4 separate regions of the Homo sapiens genome follow, and all the other regions are linked to region 3. The links come from fine-mapping of genetic effects on gene expression. A gene starts in region 3. Each other region holds a variant in brackets. All regions are shown on one strand. Distances are between the middles of the regions.

What was found. PIP is the estimated chance that this variant, and not a neighbour inherited with it, causes the effect. A credible set is the group of variants that fine-mapping cannot tell apart.
Region 1: its variant is the best candidate, but not a certain one, in a credible set for the expression of SEMA3E in lung (GTEx, PIP 0.81).
Region 2: its variant is the best candidate, but not a certain one, in a credible set for the expression of SEMA3E in lung (TOPMed, PIP 0.60).
Region 4: its variant is the best candidate, but not a certain one, in a credible set for the expression of SEMA3E in sigmoid colon (GTEx, PIP 0.88).

Annotation. Positions count from the first base shown.
Region 1 is chr7:83,531,990-83,537,147 of GRCh38, forward strand. All of the region lies in intron 1 of SEMA3E (semaphorin 3E), which reads right to left. Among named protein-coding and RNA genes, the nearest start is that of SEMA3E, 110 kb to the right of the region's middle. The variant C/A (reference allele first, on the strand shown) is at 1,950.
Region 2 is chr7:83,554,304-83,559,461 of GRCh38, forward strand. The region is part of intron 1 of SEMA3E (semaphorin 3E); the gene reads right to left. Among named protein-coding and RNA genes, the nearest start is that of SEMA3E, 92 kb to the right of the region's middle. The variant C/T (reference allele first, on the strand shown) is at 2,629.
Region 3 is chr7:83,645,900-83,651,057 of GRCh38, forward strand. It overlaps SEMA3E (semaphorin 3E), which reads right to left and starts at 3,240. Exons shown (of 17, transcript NM_012431.3): 1 at 2,529-3,240. The coding sequence starts at 2,643.
Region 4 is chr7:83,676,109-83,681,266 of GRCh38, forward strand. No RefSeq gene overlaps it. Among named protein-coding and RNA genes, the nearest start is that of SEMA3E, 30 kb to the left of the region's middle. The variant T/A (reference allele first, on the strand shown) is at 3,057.

The DNA.
Region 1 (5,158 bases), 110 kb before region 3:
AAAACAACATGTGATAAACGTGACTTTTTAAAGTTAGCATGCATTGCTGACTGTTATTTCTGGGTAAAACATGTATAAATTAGGGAAACTTGAAGGAGATAGTTCAATGCAAAAATTTAAGACAACATTAAAAAAATTAGGAATCTTTTTAGATTTTAAGGTTTCTTCATTTCAACACCTCTTTATTTTTCTTGTTATATTTTTCTTGATTCCTTATTTTCTTGGGATTTGAGAACATAAAATGGAGTTAAAATGCTCTTCTCACATTCTGGAGAGATAATTGGCAGATAAGACTTTAGGAAATCCATACTCCACTGTCTTTCCTGTCCAGAACTGAATATTCTCAAAGTGATTTAATATTTATTTCCCTTACTACAGTATGGAAGTGATGAGGACACACACCAAGATGACTCATTCTACTTTTAGAGAGAAGCACTTAGTAGTGACTGGCACATCACAGGAATTTAATCAATAGTCTCTGAAAGAATTAATGAATAAATGTGTGACTGGACTGCATTACACTGTACAGTACAGCGGGATGTAACCCTTTCCTTAAGAAGAACGTAAAGACAAATGTATTGCCCTGGTAAAAACACTCCATAATCAGGAATCTTGAAACCTGGGATCAAGTTTCTTCTCTGTGCTTACTCTTTCTGACTTATTCTCTCAATACTTCAATTTAATAAGCAACTGAAACAAACCAACCAAAAAAAAAGGGCAGATAATTTTATATGATCTTGAAGTCTTTTCCAGTTTTGAGATATAATCTGACTGAAATTATTTCCTGTTTTTTTTTTAAAAAAAGAAAGAAAACAGCAACAAAAAACAAATATGAGGCTTTATCTTGCTTCAACCATTTGTGTGTGTTTGTTAATTAATTAACACGTGATGTGATCTGTAATGTAAGAAATTCTCACCACGGGAACTCTCATCACTAAAGATGTTCTACATCTTTAATAAAGATGAAGACTAAGTCCAAAAGATAAAATGATTAATGTTTACATGGTTTCCTCATTCACCTCCCTCCACCCCACAAATCTCTAGGATTCCTTTATCCCCAAAACACTGTGTCATCACAAGTCACTCTGTAACCCTTCTTCTGTATCTTTCTCTCCTCCTCCTTCTCCTCCACCTGTACAACTGACATTACCTAAATTTCCTTAGGGTATCATGTGCAGTCCCAGAAGTTACAACCTAAAAGGGGAAGTTCCCTTTTCTCATCTTAATTTCTGTTTGAAACATACTTGGAATTAAAACAAGCAAAACAGGGGGCCAGGTGCAGTGGCTCATGCCTGTAATCCCAACACTTTGGGAGGCCAAGGTGGGCAGATCACTTGAGGTTAGGAGTACGAGACCAGTCTGGCCAACATGGCAAAACCCCATCTCTACCGAAAAAATACAAAAATTAGCCAGTCATGGTGGCAGGTGCCTGTAATCCCAACTACTAGGTAGACTGAGGCAGGAGAATGGCTTGAACCCGGGAGGCGGAGATTGCAGCTAGCCAAGATTGTGCCATTGCACTACGGCCTGGGCGACAGAGTGAGACCGTTTCTCAATAAAATACGATAAAATAAAATAAAATAAAATAAAATAAAATAAAATAAAATAAATGAAACAAGCAAAATCATGAGGCAGTAGAATAGAGGAAATCAGAATTAAATGCCACAGAAGTCCTTCACCTGAGACAAGACAGGGAGGTGAGGAGATTCAGGTCCCTACTGTGCCTCCATCTGAAACTTCCTTACGTTTTATTATTGTGCTTACCTGAGATCTGAATGATTGCAAATAAGGAGGAGGAGGAAAAGTAGAAAGATATTTGGAATTGTGGCTGGCTGGCTGGCCCAGGCACAGCTGACTGGGAAGGTCCTTCCCTGCCTGCCTTCCCAGCTGTGGTTTAGGCTATTGTCCTAAAGAGGAACTCAGCCATGATTGCATTTCAGGGAGGGCTT[C/A]TTGCCTCTAGGACTCTCCTCTTTATCCCAAGTTCTAGTCAAAATTCAAGTATTGTTCTAAATAGCATATCATATGGGAAGAAAATGAAGTTTCCATTTTTAAGCTTCTGCCAATTCTATTTAATTTGGAGCAGTTTTCAAACTTTTTAGACCATGCCCAGAGGTAACAAATAGATTTCACTTAGCAATCAGTATACACATATATGTGTAATATAAATCTGAAAACAATGCTTCCCAAAACAAGAGTTACAACACAAAATAAATACTGATATTTTCTGATTTATTCTATCTCATTTTTAAAAAAATACTGGCTGGGCCAATTACGTCTGTTGGGAGCAAGGCTCAGGCATTAGGATTTTTTTGAAGTTCTCGCCTTTGATTCCCATGTGTAGATAACTTTGGGAAGCACCACTCTAGAGGTTTTTCAGGTGAATTCTCTTGGGTTTCTAAGGACTATGGCTTTACCATTTATAAATAACAGTACTTTTTATCTTTTCATTTACAATCATTATATATTATATTTTTGTCTCTTATTGTATCTTAGAATTTTAAGAATGATATTAATAGAAATAAAAGTAAAAATCTGTTTTTAGAAGCTGGTCTATAAAATTGATTTCACACCCCATTAAATGGTCACAATTCACAGTTTGTAAATAAGCTGGTCTACAGGAAGAGTCAGTAAACTATGGCCCATGGGACAAAGCAGGTCTGTCACTTGTTTCTATAAATAAAGTTGTATTGATCACAAACAGCCACATCCATTCCTTAATGTATTATCTATGACCACTTTCCTGTAACAATGGCAGAAATGAGTAGCTGTGACAGTGACTGGTCCACAAAGCCTATAAGCTCTTTATTATTTGTCTTTACAGAAAGCCTGCCAATTCTTTGTTTAATGTAAGTTTTTTGCATTGGAGGTGAAGTAAAGAGGTTGGAAAAGGAATGAGGATCTAAATCATGAATGGTATTCCAATCTAGTGATAGGATTTTATCCTCGGGGCAATAATAAGCCATTCCTCTGCAGGAATCAAGCTCCCTTCTAATCAACGGTCTCCCACTGTGTTCTGAAACCCTGAAAATGGCACTCTTAGGCAGGAATAAAATTGTTTTGTTTCTTGTGCATTTCCAGGCTCCAATGGTTGGTGTTCTCTGTAAATATGCTAAATGTGAAATCAGCCTTTGCCTAATTTTGAGTGTGAATCTGCTGGAATTTTTAACTTCCTATCTATTTTTAGATAAAGACTCTTACTGAGTCTCATCAAAGAGTTTCATAGCTTGGGACTAGGTTCACTGGACCATTTGACTCCACATAAATTTGGCTTTTCCTTGCTTTCTAAGGAGGGGTGGTATTGGGCATCAACCATGCTTCCTGCCTGAATCATTTGCTGTGCTTTTGTCAGTACATAAAGTAAGCAACAAACCCATGCAATTAAACATGACCAAGAGACCAGTTTTAAAAAGTTACTTTTTTTTCAAGCAGGTAATATTTCATTCATTCACTAAGGAGACAGGGCAAACATTTATACAATCTATCAAATATGTTTTGCTTAGGTAATCACAGCAGTCACAGAATTCTTAATGGTAATTTAGAGTCTATTCACACTTGCCTCAAAGACAGCATTAAAGAACCTATCAATGACCCTGAGAATCATTACTAAAGTCATTATTGTTCTGATATTACAATCCAAAGCTGCATGTTTATACCTTTTTATAATCTAAGAAGTATGGCCAAAAGAAAATGCTTGAGGTAAAAGATCTCAATTACTTTAATATTTTATTTTCTTTACCAGGTGGATTTTGTTAACAAGAGGTTAGAAAATTAGAAAGATCTTCACCACATGCTTAGAAATAAAGATCTTGTAAATAGTTTATAAAAAAATGCAGTGGGAAAAATTTCAAACCTAAATTATTATTAAAGCTGCACTAAATGTGAAGAAAATAAAGGTGATTTCCAAAAAGAATGGTTAGGTGTCAAGAGTGAGAAGTGAAGAATGTGGAAAGATTAATAAAACCAAGCAGGATCTCGTTAATCAAACTTCCCCAAGTGGCACAAATGATTTGATTTGAATTTGCCTCTATATACACCAATGATGGAATCTGCTGTTTTTGTGAAGCAGCCAAAATGTCTACTTGATAAATGGGGTAATTCTTTCAAAAGTACCTATTCTGTTGTTTCTTTTATATGTTGATGATGTACACAGTAAAACTAAGATTAATTATTTGCTAAAAATATAAATAAAGCTTTGATCACTTTTACCAGCTTTTGATTTTTTTTAATGAATTGACCAAATAACATCTTTAAACTGAATCTCCGTTTAAAGGGTTGAACATGCAGAGAAATACCTCTGCATGGAATGAATTTAGTTGGCCAGGAGAATGTCTTAGACCAATGAAAATAATATGTTTCTCATGTCAAATGTTAAGGCTTTGAATAATAACAATTTTTTAAAATAGTACAATTACCTATACATTTTAGGTCTAATATAAATGTACCTGAGGAAAAATTAGGTTAATATTTCTCCTAAATGGCACCTTTTCTCATCATTCTCTTGAAAAATATGACAAAGATTTGTGTTCAAGTCTACCTAAAGCAAAACAAGTAAAACAATAAAAGAATCAAGCCTACAAACAGGCTGGTTGGACTTTTTAAAAATCAGATATATTGAGATAGTTGTTAAAAAACACATCACAAAAGGTACAATAAAACTTTGGGAAGATTAGCTAAATGAATATAAATATTAAAAAAACAAAACCAGACAACAACATAAAACAGCATTCTTAATATTGTTAATAATATCCTCAGTGACAGTGACCTCATTGGCATCTTGGCGAAGAAATAATTTTTGTGGCCAATTTTATCACAGATTTTCTGTAGAAATATCCAGTATTTAGTTTCCATTTTATTCAAAGTTATGTATTGGTATGGACTGAATTGTGTCCCCACAAATTTTGTATGTTGACACCCTAACCCCAAATATCACTATATTTGGAGAAAGGGCTTTTAGAAAGTAATTAAGGTCATTAAGGTGGGACTTTAATCCAATAGGATTGGCAACCTTATGAAAAAAATCTTTCTCTGTCTCTCTCTCTCTTCTCCCCCCTTCTCTCTCTCTCTCACTCTCTCTCTTTCTTCTCTTCCCCTCTCTCTTCCTCTCTTCCCTATGAGGATACAGTAAGTAGGCAGTCATCTGCAAGCAGGAAGACAGCCC
Region 2 (5,158 bases), 92 kb before region 3:
ATCAGGATTTTCAAACTTCAAATAGTAAGCAATGGAAAAATGAGTCCTCATAGAAAAGTTGAAACCAAATGACTTGAAATGAGGTAGCACTCGTATTCCTCCAGGCCTTTGGGTAAAGATACGTGCACGCAATACTGCTTTCGATTTCTACATAGAGCTAAGACAATCTTTCTGACCGTTCTAGAGATGTAGACACATTCAACAAAATTGGAGAGGAAAAGATGATAGGGGCAGTTTTTTTTAACCCAGTGTACAAAAGAGTATGTCAACAGTTTCCAAATGTAGTAATGTAATATCAAAAGAAGAAAAAGTCTCCTTTGAATTTTTCTTTTCAATTACAGAACATTTACTTTATAACAAGATTACTAACACTTTAAAGACATGTGCTTCTCTCTGGGTGCGGTGGCTCACTACTGTAATCCCAGCACTTTGGGAGGCCGAGGTGGGCAGATCACGAGGTCAGGAGATGGAGACCATCTTGGCTAACACGGTGAAACCCCGTCTCTACTAAAAATAGGAAAAAATTAGCCTGGCGTGGTGGCGGGCGCCTGTAGTCCCAGCTACTAGGGAGGTAGAGGCAGGAGAATGGCGTGAACCCGGGAGGCGGAGCTTGCAGTGAGCCAAGATCAGACCACTGTACTCCAGCCTGGGTGACAGAGCGAGACTCCGTCTCAAAATAAATAAATAAATAAATAAAAATGGAAAAAAAAAAGACTTGTGCTTTTCATAGAAACAATTCCATTTAATAGAAACAATTTAACTATAAGTGCAGGAATTATTCATTATAGAGAATAGGTGCAGTCTTGAATTTCATTAAGTACTGCTTTTCTTACTATTATTTATTGTAGACCAAAAATGCATTTTACCCAAAAATAAAAAATAAAAATTCGCCCTGACCTGAGATATAGAAGTAAATCCATCTAATGCTAGCTTGCTTTCTGCATCAAAAAGTTGAAGTGTCCCAGACGTCACCAGTACATAATATATGCATGTAACACAACTGCACTTGTGCCGCTAAATCTATTTTTTAAATGTTGAAGTGAATTGATGTGTTACTTTTTTCTTTTTTCTCTCTCCCATTTAAATAGGCTTAAAAAATAAAGCACATGGTAGAAGTCACAGCATTTAATTGTCTCACCATAAAGATAAAAGCATGTGTTTTATTAGATAAAATTGTCACATCCTGGATTATTCCTACTCTCTATGCTATTCATCTACGACTTTCTCCCACTAGAGGCAAACGTATTTTCCATGTCTACAATGAGGCTTAAAGAAGTTGAGGTAAAGTGTGATTGCGATTTGCCCATCTCTTGTTACAAATCAGCAAATCAATAGACTCCTAATATTTGGAGAAAAAAGGTACCTAGAAATGCTCCAGCTTAATTCTTTCTAACAATTGGATCTGTCTGGCATCTTCATGATGCCTTCTAATTTTTTTCTCTGAACATACTAATTTATTTTATACTTTAGCAAATTCTATTTGCTGTTCCTTGATTCAAATTCATGCTCGGTAGCATGGGTCAGCTCATTATTATCCTCTCATCCATGGACATTTAAGAACTAAGAATGTGGAGACCTTACTAAGGAATTTCCACACAGAGAGGGTCTATGTCATACCTCCAGCATTTTCTCTGACAACCTCTTTTTCAAACTGTATACTTTTTAACTTCTGTTTTTGCTCCATATAATTGCCCTTAATCCAAATTCTAATAAATGAGAAAGCACTAACTGCATTTTCTCTGTTCTCTTTCCAGTATAACAGGAAATGTTCATAAACATTTATATGTTTACATTATATGTTTATGAACATGTTATACGTTTTTATATGTTCAGAAACTTACTGATTTTCATGTAGGTAACATGAAATTGTTTTTTAAAAAGGACATTCTCCCTCCACTGCCTGCACTTACCTTCGCTTTTTGAGATAACTATTGATAATACTTTAGCATATATCTTTGGAAAATATGCTTTCCAGGTTGCCAACGACTTTGCATAGATATTACATATGTCCATGCAAATAACCTGTATTATCAACACTAAATGCCTACTGCTAGTATTAGTCATTCATTCAATAGCTATATATGGAGCCCCTTATTAAATGCCAGGTCGTTTTAAGAGTCATAATACATTAGTGAACAAAACAGACAATGATTCATGCTATCATGTATGTTACATTTCGTGAGAAAATTGTGTTTAGAAAAAGACCTAGACATTGAGGGGCCAGGGAACAAGTTGTCAATTTTAATGACTATATCTTGTTTAATATAGTATAAACAGTGGAAGCATTTGTAGGTACAAGTAGCAGGCATGCCATAATGGTGTAGATTGCCATCTGGGGATCTCAAGTAAATTATTATAAGATGCAAATTTATAATCTGACTTAGGAATTAGTTTACTGCTACAGCTTGAATGTTTGTGTCCTCTCCAAAACTTACGTTGAAACTTAATCCCCAGTGAAACAGTATTAAGAGGTCTGGTCATTGGGAGGTCATTAGGTCATGAGGGTTCTGCCCTCATGAAAGGATTCGAGCCTTACAAAAGGGCTGGAGGAGACAAGTCAGGCCCTTTCTGGCCCTTTTACCTTTCCATCCTCACCTTGGACTTGTGAGGACACAGTGTTCAAGGCAC[C/T]ATCTCAGAAGCAAAGACTAGGATCTTACCAGACACCAAACCTGCCAGAGTTTGATCTTTGACTTCCAGCCTCCAGAACTAAGAAACAAATTCATGTTCTTTATAAATTACCCAGTCTCAGGTATTTTGTTATAGCAGCATAAACCAATTAAGACATTTACAGAGTTTATAAATTACTGAATAAATGTAAGGAATATAATATATTGAAGATCAAAAGTCTTATGTCAAAGTATTTTATTTGAAAATGAATATTCTTTTTATTACTAAATTTATGTAACAAGTATGTTTATAATATTTCTTCAATTAAATGCTTTGGCATTAAAATGAACCTTACTAATTTTTACTGTACAGATAAAAGGAATTTATATGAATCTATAAAAATATATAAAATAAAAATTATTACTATTATGCTTATTAAAAATAAGTATCAACATAAATATTGATCAATAATTCAAACTAATTAACAAAGCACATCAAAATAGGATTTTATTTTAATCAATGCTCTTATTATGGTAAAACAACTAAAATTAATTTATAAACGTTTCAGTGTTCATTATTTCCAATGTAAAAATATTAAAGGAAAACCAGTTGCCAAAGATCTTTTCATTAATATTTTAAACTAATATTAGTTATTTGAAACAAAGCATTAGTTAATATTTGACAAGGTATTCAAAAAATCATTTCACAGGTTTTTATAAATTAAAACAATGAATTTAACTCTATATTATGTCAGTAAAGATGCTAACAATTACACAAAGAAAATATATTCCTCCTTCCTACCGATTCTTTAGAAGAATGAGATTACTATTATCAGCAGCTTATGTCTCGACTTCAGCCTAACAGCAAGCTAGCTCAATGTGCATCCCTCTAAGAATTGCTCTAAGAATTATACTTGGAAGAAGGTAGGAAGCAAACTTCAGTTTTATTCCTAGGTATAGGACATTAGCACTTTGTCCAAAATGTACACAATAGGCTTCCAAAATATTTAGCTTCTCATTTGCACATATGCCCAAGAAAGGCTGTAAAACCCAGTACAATGGCTTTTCTATTTGAACATGATCCAGAAGGATAAATGTTCCTTCTGTGTACCCAGGTTATAGGAAACATTTGAGGACCTTTTCCAATTAAGTTATCCATTGATTTGTTGTGTAACATATATTCCTAATAATAGCTTTCATAATATTTGTAATTTAACAATCTGGGAGAGGAGATACAATGTAGTAAACAATTTCAGTAAATGGTGGGGCAAAGCCTTGAGATAACTAGAGATGTATATATATTTTTTAAAGACAAAGATTGGAAGAAATCACCAAAGATGCCATGTTCTGCCACATTGCTGTGAGCAATGATTCAAATAATTATGTATGTGAAAAACATACCAGCCTTGATTTTTCAAAATGCACATTTTTCATATTGTTTGAATTTACAGGAACTGGCACCAAGGTTTTACTGAATAATTTTGTGGTCTACTGTGCTACTGGTATTTGGTTTCAAAAGACAAATACAGGGGTGCTTAAAGAGCATTTATTTAGTAATTTCTCTTTAAAATTTAAACTGTGTCATTTCAGGAGGAAAACAGAAATAAACATCCATTTTTCAAAAAGTACAGTTGTCAAATTATGAAGGAAGAAGAAAATAATAGACCTATTAATATCAGTAAAGATGTATTCCAGATGCATTTTTAAAATTATGGTTACATTTCAGATATGAACCAACTATTTTAGTATATTTTAATAAAAATATGGCTAAGAAGCAATGCTACAATGACAAACCACAATAAAATGAGATAATAAAACTACTTTAACAACCTAATATTGAAAGATTAAAACTCCTACCTTAAGTGTTATTAGGAATAACTAATAGTGTGTCATGTCACTACAAAAATCAAATTTTTAACAAATACAAATATTTTAGTGAAAAAAGAAATACAATATAAATCAAATATAAGATTTAAATTTGGCTCCCCTTTTTGCTTTCCCTAAATGGCTAACTCTAGCTAACTCATCAATTGAAAATGATGTTTTTTGACCTTTTTCAGTCCATACATTTCAAATAGAGTATAATTTTAACCAGCTACATTGTTGGCTGAAGATTAAAAACCATTTTGGTGTTGTGTTAATTATAAATAAAGCACCAATAATTGGTGCTCATCTTTGACTGGATCAATTTTGATGTAGCAGGAACAGTATTGGACTTGGAGCTGAGAACAAGTCCAAATCTTTGCTAGGACAGTTGCTAACTGCAGGAGTTCAACAAAGCTACCTGCTTGAGCCTTGGTTTCTTCTCCCATAGAAGGATAGCTTTAACAAATGGTATTTGACAAGATTGAAAGGTGATATATACAAGGCTCCAGCATTGTGCAACCATAAAAAGTCATGGAATGGAAGTCATCTTAAATGTTTTGTTATATCCATATTTGTTTTAATATTCTAAGTATTATTACTGTCAGGAAATAACACTTTTAAAACAGGAGAAAAAATAGTAGTGTCAGACATCTCACAGAAGAAGGTATTCAGATGACAAATGAGCA
Region 3 (5,158 bases):
TAACTCACGCTCTGTATATGATAAACTTTCTCCTCCTCCTTGGGAAGAAACAATAGGCTTGTGTTTTCATCTTAAAAGTGAAGAATATGAGAAAAATGCCTGCCTTTCTCCCATACAGCTTAGATCATTAACTGTGAAAAGAATTTCTGAATTATTCTAGTAGGCTATCTCCAGGGAGCCTCCTGGATTTCCTTGCTAGTGGTCAGGCAGCGGTACAGAGATGCTATATGACATATACCTAGTGCCTCTTATATTGAAAGATTATATACTCATTTAAATATTAATTACTTAATTCACTCGCTACTGAACACTTGTCGTTACTGACATTAGTCAAGTCAGCAAAAGATTAATCTGTAATATCTTATTCCTAGTTTTTGAAGACTTCTAAAATATTCACTGAATTCCAGAGTCTAGAGAGATAAATGGGCTGTTCATATTGTATTGGTGGGACTGAATATCCCTCCTCTGACAGTATATATGCTCTTCTTTTCACTGAGGCCCCTGAGGTGCAGTAGGCATTTGCTGCTTCAGGTAGCATCTCCAGTGTGATCTCTTAACTGACTTTACTAACTAAATTGCACAAGTAGGAACATTCTATTTTCAGGTAACTCTCTCTATTCTGCCTTTGTATAAAAACATCATATTGTGCATTTTCAGCTGGTTCCATTAAATTCAAAGTTAAGGGAAATCCTGTGGGAGTTTTCAGTCTATTGTACATATAGATACTAGCGGTTTTACTCTCACACCATATGACACCACTCATAACATCAGTTACAATTATTTCTTTGAATATAAGTGACATAATAAAGATGAACTCGATAATAGTATTATGCATAACATTTACTTGTATCAGAGAACTTTGGTATTTTTTGATCAAATTATTAACTCTCTTATGAAATATTAAAATGTGACCTGTTGGAAAACACACTGATATTGAACCATGAAAACACAAGTACCCCAATAATAGGGTATAAAATGTTAATACTAGATATAACAGAATTGTAGCTTGCAAAAACTGGCAGCTTATCTACTTGTCTACATAAGAAAAACAATCAATTATATTTTTTTGCATTTTTATTTGTCCATATTCCATCACATCAAATTTGTACATGTTGACATCTTTGATGATAAACTTCTTAGAAATAGGCATTTTGATACATACCATGATACATCTTCCCAAGTTAAAAGATTAGTGTTAATTCTGGGCACTATATTTTAAACACTTTACCAATTTAGTATCAATGGATTTCTTAAATTTATATTATCTACTGGATAGTATTATAGGAAATCTATTTAAACTAAGAAAACATCCACTATTCTAAAAATGAAAAAATTTCTATAGTCAACATTTACTGAAGATTGTCCAATAAAAAGACAAAAAGGCCAAACGTGTCACATAAAATTGAGGACTCCCTTTTTGTTTCTCCTGATAAATATTCTACCTGTACTTAGAAAATACAAGCTTCTGTTCTTTCTACAGTGGGGGACAATTTAAAAGCTTACACAATTGAAAAATGATTCTTATGTAATCCTGAGTATTACATCTGCTATCTGTCTCAATGTGTCAATGGCTAGTGATAATAAATACTTCTTTGCTGACAATTTATTCCGAATTTATATTAAGTCAGCAAAGTCACTTTCTCTGAGCATGGTTTTGTTTATTATTTGTTTGTTTACAGGAGGAATTACCAAACCTATTCATGACTGGCTTGTATTGGTCCTGATGCAAAATCTATCTTTTAATCATTTATTTATGAGTATGATGTTGCTTTACAAGACAATTGTAGAATGAAATATTTAAACATTTGCTGTTAGATCTTCATTAAGGCAATATAAATTTACACTACAAATGCTAGTGAATACTAATACTTTAATCCATATTAGCCATTTTACAAGCATTGTCATAAACTATTTTCCTTTGCCACACATGAAAAAATTCTAATAATCAATTCAACTGGAAAACTAATTTATATTAGTTGTTAATCATTTTAATTACATGATGATGACAGTTATGGGTAGGGCATCATTTTTCTCCTCGGGATTTTTATTTTCTCCTCTTACCTCCATTATGGAAACAAAACAAAACAAAAACAAAAAGAACAAATTGCACCCCTATTTCTATAGCCCTTTCCCAGCATCCTTGTTTCTCATATGCATAAACTGATATTTAAATATCTACTGTTAACTTGGTGGATTCAGCCTCTCAAGGCTATTTTCAACCTGCTTCCTCCCTTCCTGTGTTCCGCGGGCTAGTGAGTGAACTCCTTATTGATAAAATCCAATGTTTACAGACAAAAATAACATCTCTAAGTTGACATGTGATTTTGCACTGTTTTCAGATGAGGTGAGTATGACACATTAATCAGAGGTACTTAGAATTTTAGGTCAGTTTTGCAATAAATTTTTCAGGTGCATTTTAAAGGTCTTTGAAGACCATAAGCCTATGTTAATGTTAAACGACTTTTTTTTTCTTTTTTCTTTTTCTTTTTTTTTTTTTTTAAACAAAAGGATCTGGAAAGGTAACCTACCTTTATGTGACAGGCGTAACCGGGGGTGGGTAGTATCAGCTGTATGACCTCCTGTCCAAAGCTCCAGTAAGTAACCCCACAGGAGCAAGGTGATAATGTGCCCCGCGGATGCCATGCTGCCGTGTTCACCGTCCAAGCCCTCGCTCCTCACTTTAAGGAGGGTCTGAGTTTTACTTAGGACTTCCCTCCAGGGGCAGCGTGCGAGAGGCTTTGTCAGAAATCGAACGCGTTGTCATCAGAAAGCACAGTTCCGAAGTGCCATTTGTCAGGCTGTATTTGGCTATGTAAAACCTTTCTTTCCTCGGGACAGTTGTTTATAAGCCGGGAGCAAGAGGACATTCCAAAGAGTGAGTCTTCAGAGCCATGTCCTGTCTAGAGCGCTCTTCAGCAACTACGCCGGTAGATTCAGGAAGAAGCTGTATTTTTCAGTCACTTGGGCAAAGCTGTTCATTCAGAAAAAAAAAAAAAAAAGAGAGAAAAAAACAAAACCGAGCACACGCACTCCCTTCTCCCGTGGAGGTCCTCTCTTCGGGCTCCTGGAAGCCTCTCAGAAGTCAGCCTCTTGCACTGACTTGCCAAACTGCTAGTTTTAATTCACCTTTCACCTTGCTAATTAAAAACAAGAAGTGCCATTCCCTCTAGGAGTCGCAGGATCCACCCAGCAGGGATGCAGTCTGTCAGTGGCTGTTTACAGGAAAGTTCAGGCAGGGTTGAGCAGCGTACTTGCTGTTTCTAGGAAGTATTTCTGGTCCACGTGCCTCGCTCCCATCCTCCCTCCCAGTCATAACCAGCCCCACGTTACTCAGCAGCAGGAGAGAAGTCCACATTTTGATGGGGGAAATGGGGAGTTCGGGAGGGGTGATGACATAGACTGATTATTTAAGAATAGGTGACAGACAAGGATGTGGCATCAGAAAGCGCTTTTAAATTCTTACCAAGATAAATTGACCTAAGTTGAATAAATCCAACTTCTTTTGAAAATAATCTATTTGTAACCATCCAGAATCCAAATTCTGTTTTTCACTGTTGCCATAAGGTTTTTTTCAAAATTAAGTCTTTTTCTATTGCTTATATCTTAGGGATGTTATTTTTAAACTCTTTTAAGAAAAGTGTGTTTCAAGAGCCTGAAAAAAAAAAGTTCATCTGTGACTGTCTCATAAATTTGATAGAAATGATAAATTATTTACTTAAGCAAATTGGTCAAATGAAATTAAAGGCAAATCCTTTGTCCTAAAGCAATTCCTAAATTTTACTTCAAATTTAGGAATGTTGAAGTAATTTCCCCCAGGTAAGGTAACTGGCAAAGTTGAGATTCACCACCCAAGGGATTTCTATAAAGCAGGTATTAGAAAACTTAGGATGTGCAATACCTTAGGATTCAACTGCTATGGACTTCCAGAGTTGATTTTCCAAGGCACTGTGTTTGTGTAAATAAGCTTAACACAATAGGTCAACTTTACAATCTACCTTCAATCAATCTCAAAAACTAAGCCAAACACTCAGGAGCTGTTGGCATGGAAATGAATGGTATTATGTTAAGATACCAATAAACTTGAATAGATATTTGATTTGATAGTGGAGAGTTAAATGGTAAACACTGATCTCAACTATGATAACTTTTTCTTATTCTGTATTTTAAATGCTAATAGTTAAAAACTTTTTGAGAATTATGTTTTAAAATCACGAAACTATAACAAAAAGATAACATGTGTCACCCTGATATTTTTGCATTATATAGAAGCATATGTACAGCCAGGCATTCTCTACCCATTTTTCTAATCATGAGATGTTCTTGTACAAGCAGAGTATATTTAGCAAAATGTAAATGTCACTGGACATTATAAATAATTAGATTTCCAAGGTCTACAAAAGATAGCAAACTCTAAACATTATTTAACAGTAAAATGACATGAAGTTATTTAGAGACTTTTAACCTGGAATGCTTGCATATTTTAAAAGCCAGTCTGATGAGCTACAGACCTAAAGGTTGCTCTAAATGTGATACATTGTACCTTCAAAATTCTCTTTTGCTTTCTTCTAGGATGGAAACAAATGACAAAATAAATAGCAGCTCTTATATGTGTTATCTAATAGTAGGATTATAGGAAAAGTAAATGTGGTGCCTACACCTTTTATTGCAAATTCATGGCTACTCTCACATAGCTGAAATTCTACTTAAGATTGCATAGTGCCTGTCCTAACTCTACTATAGAACTGAGACAATGTGAGACATTACAATCATTTCATTAGTACACAAAATATGCACCTCTAAAGTGTTGACAAGAGAATATATGTTATGAATGCCAAGATCTGTCTTTGGTTTTACATCTCATCCTTCAGATTAAGTTGGAGCAATTTAGAAGTAAATGCCAGAATAATGGGTTGTTTAGATTCCTCAAAATGTGCTTTGGCTTATCTGCCAGTTGTCAATGTCCTTACTTATTTCTTTTAACTACTCTTTATGTCCTTTTACCTTTATCTTTATCCTATAGAAAATATATAGATGATGCCAAAAAATGACTGTTAAGAAAACTATCTATAGTCTCAGTTTCCCCTATGTGGCATTAGCAATGGAATAAAGAGTCTTTGGGACCAAATTAGTCACTTACATCATAAAATAAAACAAGAAG
Region 4 (5,158 bases), 30 kb after region 3:
ACTTCAAAAGCACAAGAAAAAAAAATCACTGTAAGTTCAAGTTGAATATTTGAATATTAATATGGGCCAACCTACCTATTCATTAATTTCAGGCATTTTTGTTAGCTTCTCTTTGCCCACTTAATTCTGAGCTTGGTTTACAGCTAAATTTTCTTCTACTTACTGGTTCATCATCTACAGAGGACATCTCTGTACCTAACACAGTGTTAGCATTTCTTATTCTGCTTTAGCCTTTCAATTGCAACAGGATTATTTGGTTATATTCCATATGGAAGTAAAATTGGGCTTTTTGTTTTTTTTTTACTTAATGAACATATTCTAACTCTATGTCTATCAACATTCCTTTCTATTTATTTTTACTAATTCTATAAAATTATAAATTTTATGCATTCAAAATTTTTATACACAAGAACACCATTTAGCTTCTGTTGGTATCTGGTCTTATTCTTTTACATGTTAAGTCGATTTCTCTTTGAAGATCTGTTTTAAATTTCCGGTAAACGTGAGACACCTGAATGGGTAGCATAAGAAACTGATTATACTGCTTTTCTTTATACAATATTATATTTCCTGGGAAATGAGCCAGAGTCTGATCTAACTCATCTCTAGTACTTTGAATATTCTACCACATATTGCCTTGCAAAATCTTCCACAAACAGTAATAAAATATATTCTTCCTAAATAATTTGATTTCTATTCAAATATATTTGCAGATCCTAACAATCCTATAGAACTCTAAGTTAGAGTGAGAAGAGTTTTAATTTCTTTTTTTTTCAACTCCTAAATTGTGACCAAAGGCTTTTTTTTTTTTTTTTGCAAAGTTACTATTCTTAATGAGTTTAATTTTTTTTTTCCTCTTCTTTTTCTTCCACGTTAGAATGTGCTGTTAAATCAAGTGTCCAGGTGCAAAGGTGGTTTCTAAATGAAGAGTTAGGGTAAGTTTTTTCCACTTTTTGTAATTTAGGATTGGGCTCCCAGGTTGATTCATACCTCTAAAAACAGCAGAATTTATTTTTTGCTTTTCTAAGGCAGAAGTCACTTCGACAATTTTTAAAGTGCTTTAAGTGACTACTTTAAACAACCTGCAGACTAAGGAAGTTCTCGTAGCTCTGGAAATGGAAACAGCTGGACTAGTTCAGTGGGGATGATTCAGCCTGAGTCACAGGCCCACACCCAAATGGAAAGTGTAAACCCTGAAGGCCTTAGGGGATCCCTAGAGCCAGGAATCCCCTCTGGGACCTACCACAGTCTCTGGACTGGCTCAGGTTTCAGTGATTATTTTTAGCTCCTCTTTATTTATCCTATGGTTCTCCATCCTTTTCATCATAATTTATAGTATCCTTTATTTACATTTCCAATAAGTACTGGTGAGTATGAGTAATTGCAGAATAAATTAAGATATGTCCAGTGGACACTTGACATGACACAACCCTAAAGAAAACATCAACCTACCCCGTATCTTCACTTAGTCTAAAAGTCTGGAGGAGTCCGGATATTCTTGGAGTCCCCAGAGGCAACAGCACTTCATGTTTAACTTATAGGCAAGCAGACTTAATGAGATACAGCATACAGGATACACAGCACATTTCCCCGCCCACTCAAAAATACTTTCATAAAAACAGTGACCAGTGTTTACTCTGGCCAGGAACTCCAAAACATACCCTTTGGGCTTGTTCTTCATTAATATATCACAACTGCTCTGTGAGATGGACATGGTTATTATCTCCATGCTCACACAGCTCATAATTGGTGGAGCCAAAAAATGAACACAAGATCTTTGACTCCAAAGCCCAAGTTCTTACCATTTATGATGACTAAAAACCAGTTGTATGTTTTTTCCTGAATATATTCAACAAACTTGTGTTGAGCAAAAACTGTGTTCAAGCACTGTGCTAGTTACAGAGAATTCAACAATAAATAAAACTGACAAATGACATAATGGACTTACATCTCATGAGGAAAGTAAATAATACAAATGAGTAGAATAAATTGTATTGTGTAAATGTGATAAAGAAAAAACTCAAGAAAAGCAAGTGGGGTCATTGAGATGATAACATTTAAATCCTATGATTAGTAATGATCTTTGCGAGAAGGTGATAATTAAACCAAGAACTGTAGGAGGTGAAGAAACAAGCCCTTCTCCATCCTCAACCAACCTAGCCTCCAGGGAAAATAGCATTCCAGGCCAAAGGGACAAGTTTAAAGGCTGTGAAGCACCTGGGAGCATTGCTAGAATGACCCAAGAAGAGCAAGAAGACAGATGGGTTGTAGTGAATTGACAAGTAGGAGAGGCTAGGAAAAGATGAGACCTGAGAGAGAATAAGGCAAAGAAGTGGAGGCTTCTTGTCAGACGAGAATAAAAGCAATTGTCTTTCAAATAGAGTTGAGACATAATCTGATTTATGTTTTTAAAGGGATACTCTGGCTTTTGTATTGAAAACAGACTGGGAACATAAGGAGAGAAGAACGATCAATCTGGTATACCTGTTAGGAAACTGTTACAATTCAGAAAAAAAATAATGTTTGCTTGGACCAAAGAGAGTATTGAAACTGATGGAAAATGATTGATGTACGTATTTTATAGGTGGAACTGATAGAATTTGCTAATCAATTGTATGTAAAGTAAATAGCTGGGTCAGGCCTGAACATTTGGAAGAATGGAGATTTATTAGCTGAGATGCAGAAAGCAGTAGGTGTAGTAGGTTTAGGTATTTTGCTAAGCATATATAGTGAAGAAAGAGAGACAAGAGAGTAGAGAGAGTATCCAGAAAAATGATCATAAAGATTGACCATAGACTGTCACTGGGCTGCAGAAGAATGATCAAGGTGGACTGGGAGGGGAGTGTAGAGGTGGTAGGATCAAGGGCTGTAGGTCTGTGTGAGGCTGCAGGGTTGCTGGAGTCAGTACTGGAGGGGTGAGGAATTTAATCAACACCAACTCTAGATTCCTGAAGTCAAAAAACTTATTAGAACATGTCCTAGCAGAGCTCTTAAGAGAGGCTAGCTTCTGGGACTCTCCTATAGTCTATTTCAATATTAGCTTTAGATAACTTTTT[T/A]AAAAAAATTATTAATTTAAGGGCTGAATGATTTTCTAATTATCTAAAAATTAAAGTCTTCACCACTTAATATTTGAATACTTTATAAGATAGGATTTGCCTATTTGGGATATATTTGAGAATTCCCAGAATAAAATAGATTGTCCCATGTTAGCAGTCAAAGCACATCTTTGGGCCATGAGTTACCGTATTATAAAAAGATTTCAAAATGAAATAAAATGTATTAATATAGAGATTAAAGGTTAATTATTAATTTGTGTTATTTTCAAAAATAGAACACACATTCAGAATTTAAAATTTTCATATTAATCTAATGATTGGCAATCTTTTATGAAATCATTTTACCAACATCACTTAATTCTTACAAAGTAGATTATGATAAAATTATATTTTCCTAAAGTATATTTTTAAAATAAACAAATGTGAATAGTTCATATTCAGACCATACAAATACTTTATATGTATAATTCAGACCATACAAATACTGTATATATATAACCAATCTCATAGGAAGGGGGTTGGATTCTTATCTCCGTATGTTTAATTTGAGATACCAGATAGCTCACCTTTCCAAAATATGACCTCCCCGAGCACTGAAATATAAACGACTAAATCCATTTCTGTTGTGTGTCCAAAGATCCCTAGTTCAAAACCTACACATTACTTTTGAGGTTTAAGATACCCCCAATTTATTTTCTATTGTCATTATCTATTAATAAAGCAGAAAAGTCATGGAGAAATTAAGCATTGATCAAGTAAGCTTTGTTGGAGCATATGGGAAGAAAAAGATCTCAAGAAAAAGAAATGGGCTGGGTGCAGTGGCTCATGTTTGTAATCCTAGCACTTTGGGAGGCCGAGGCAGGTGGATTGCTGGATTGCTTGAGCCCAAGAGTTGAAGACCAGCCTAGGCAATGGGGCAAAACCCCATCTCTATAAAAAACACAAAAATGAGCCAGGTGTAGTGGTGCACACCTGTAGTCTCAGCTATTTGGGAGGCTGAGGTGTGACGATGACTTGAGCTTGAGAGGCAGAGGTTACAGTGAGCCAAGCCTGTGCCGTTGCACTCCAGCCTGGGACCCTGTCTCAAAAAAAAAAAAAAAAAAAAAAAGGAATGACCTAAGGGAGGCAGTTCCCAAGTGAGATAATACAAGGACAATGTGGTGTCAATGAGTTGAGATACTCATTTGGAAGAAGAAAAGAAAGACAACATTTCTACCTTTTTTTTTTTTCCTTTTTGAGACAAGGATCTCACTCTGTTGCACAGGCTGGAAGGCTGGAGTGTGGTGGCATGATTATAGCTCAACCTCCCGGGCTCAAGCAATCCTCCCACCTCAGCCTCTTGAGTAGCTGGGACTACAGACACATGCCACCTTGCTTGGCTGTTTCCCTTTTTGTGGAGACAGAGGTCTCACTATATTGCCCAAGCTGCTCTTGAACACCTGGGCTCAAGCAATCCTCCTGCCTCACCATCTTAAAGTGCTGGGATTACAGGCATGAGCCACGGAGCCCGTCATTGTTTCTACTTTAACAGTTAACCTCATCAACATTAGTAGCAATTCTTTTGATTAAAATACAGCAGATATATTTTTTATTAAATGATTATGATCTTGGTTTAAAAAAATTTTTTTAGAAAAGCAAACAAATTACATAATACCTTTAATGATAAAGGTATAAAGAGACTTTCAGCCATATGTATTTCTGTAACAATGTAAGTGATTATTTTTGTAATGGAAAGAATATATTTTTGGAGGGGAAAGGAACATACATGTTTAATTTTATGAATAATGAAGGTGGAGTAAAGGCCAAGAAAACTTATTATTATGTATAAAAATGTTATTTCAACATTATTATTATCTACAAAACCAAAATGGATTTAATTAAGGTGGGCAAGGAAGGACATATTTTAAATGAAAGAATTTTCTTATGCCTAAATTGGATACTAAAAACATTCAATACTGTTTATCTGTATTATTTTATTAACTTTGAAAATTATTATTATATTGTCATTCATTTACATCCTGATTTAAAGAAAAGTTTTATAACTATTTTTGGAAAAGACCTATTAGATCCCTGCTAAGGTCAGTTCTTCAGGATAAGACTTA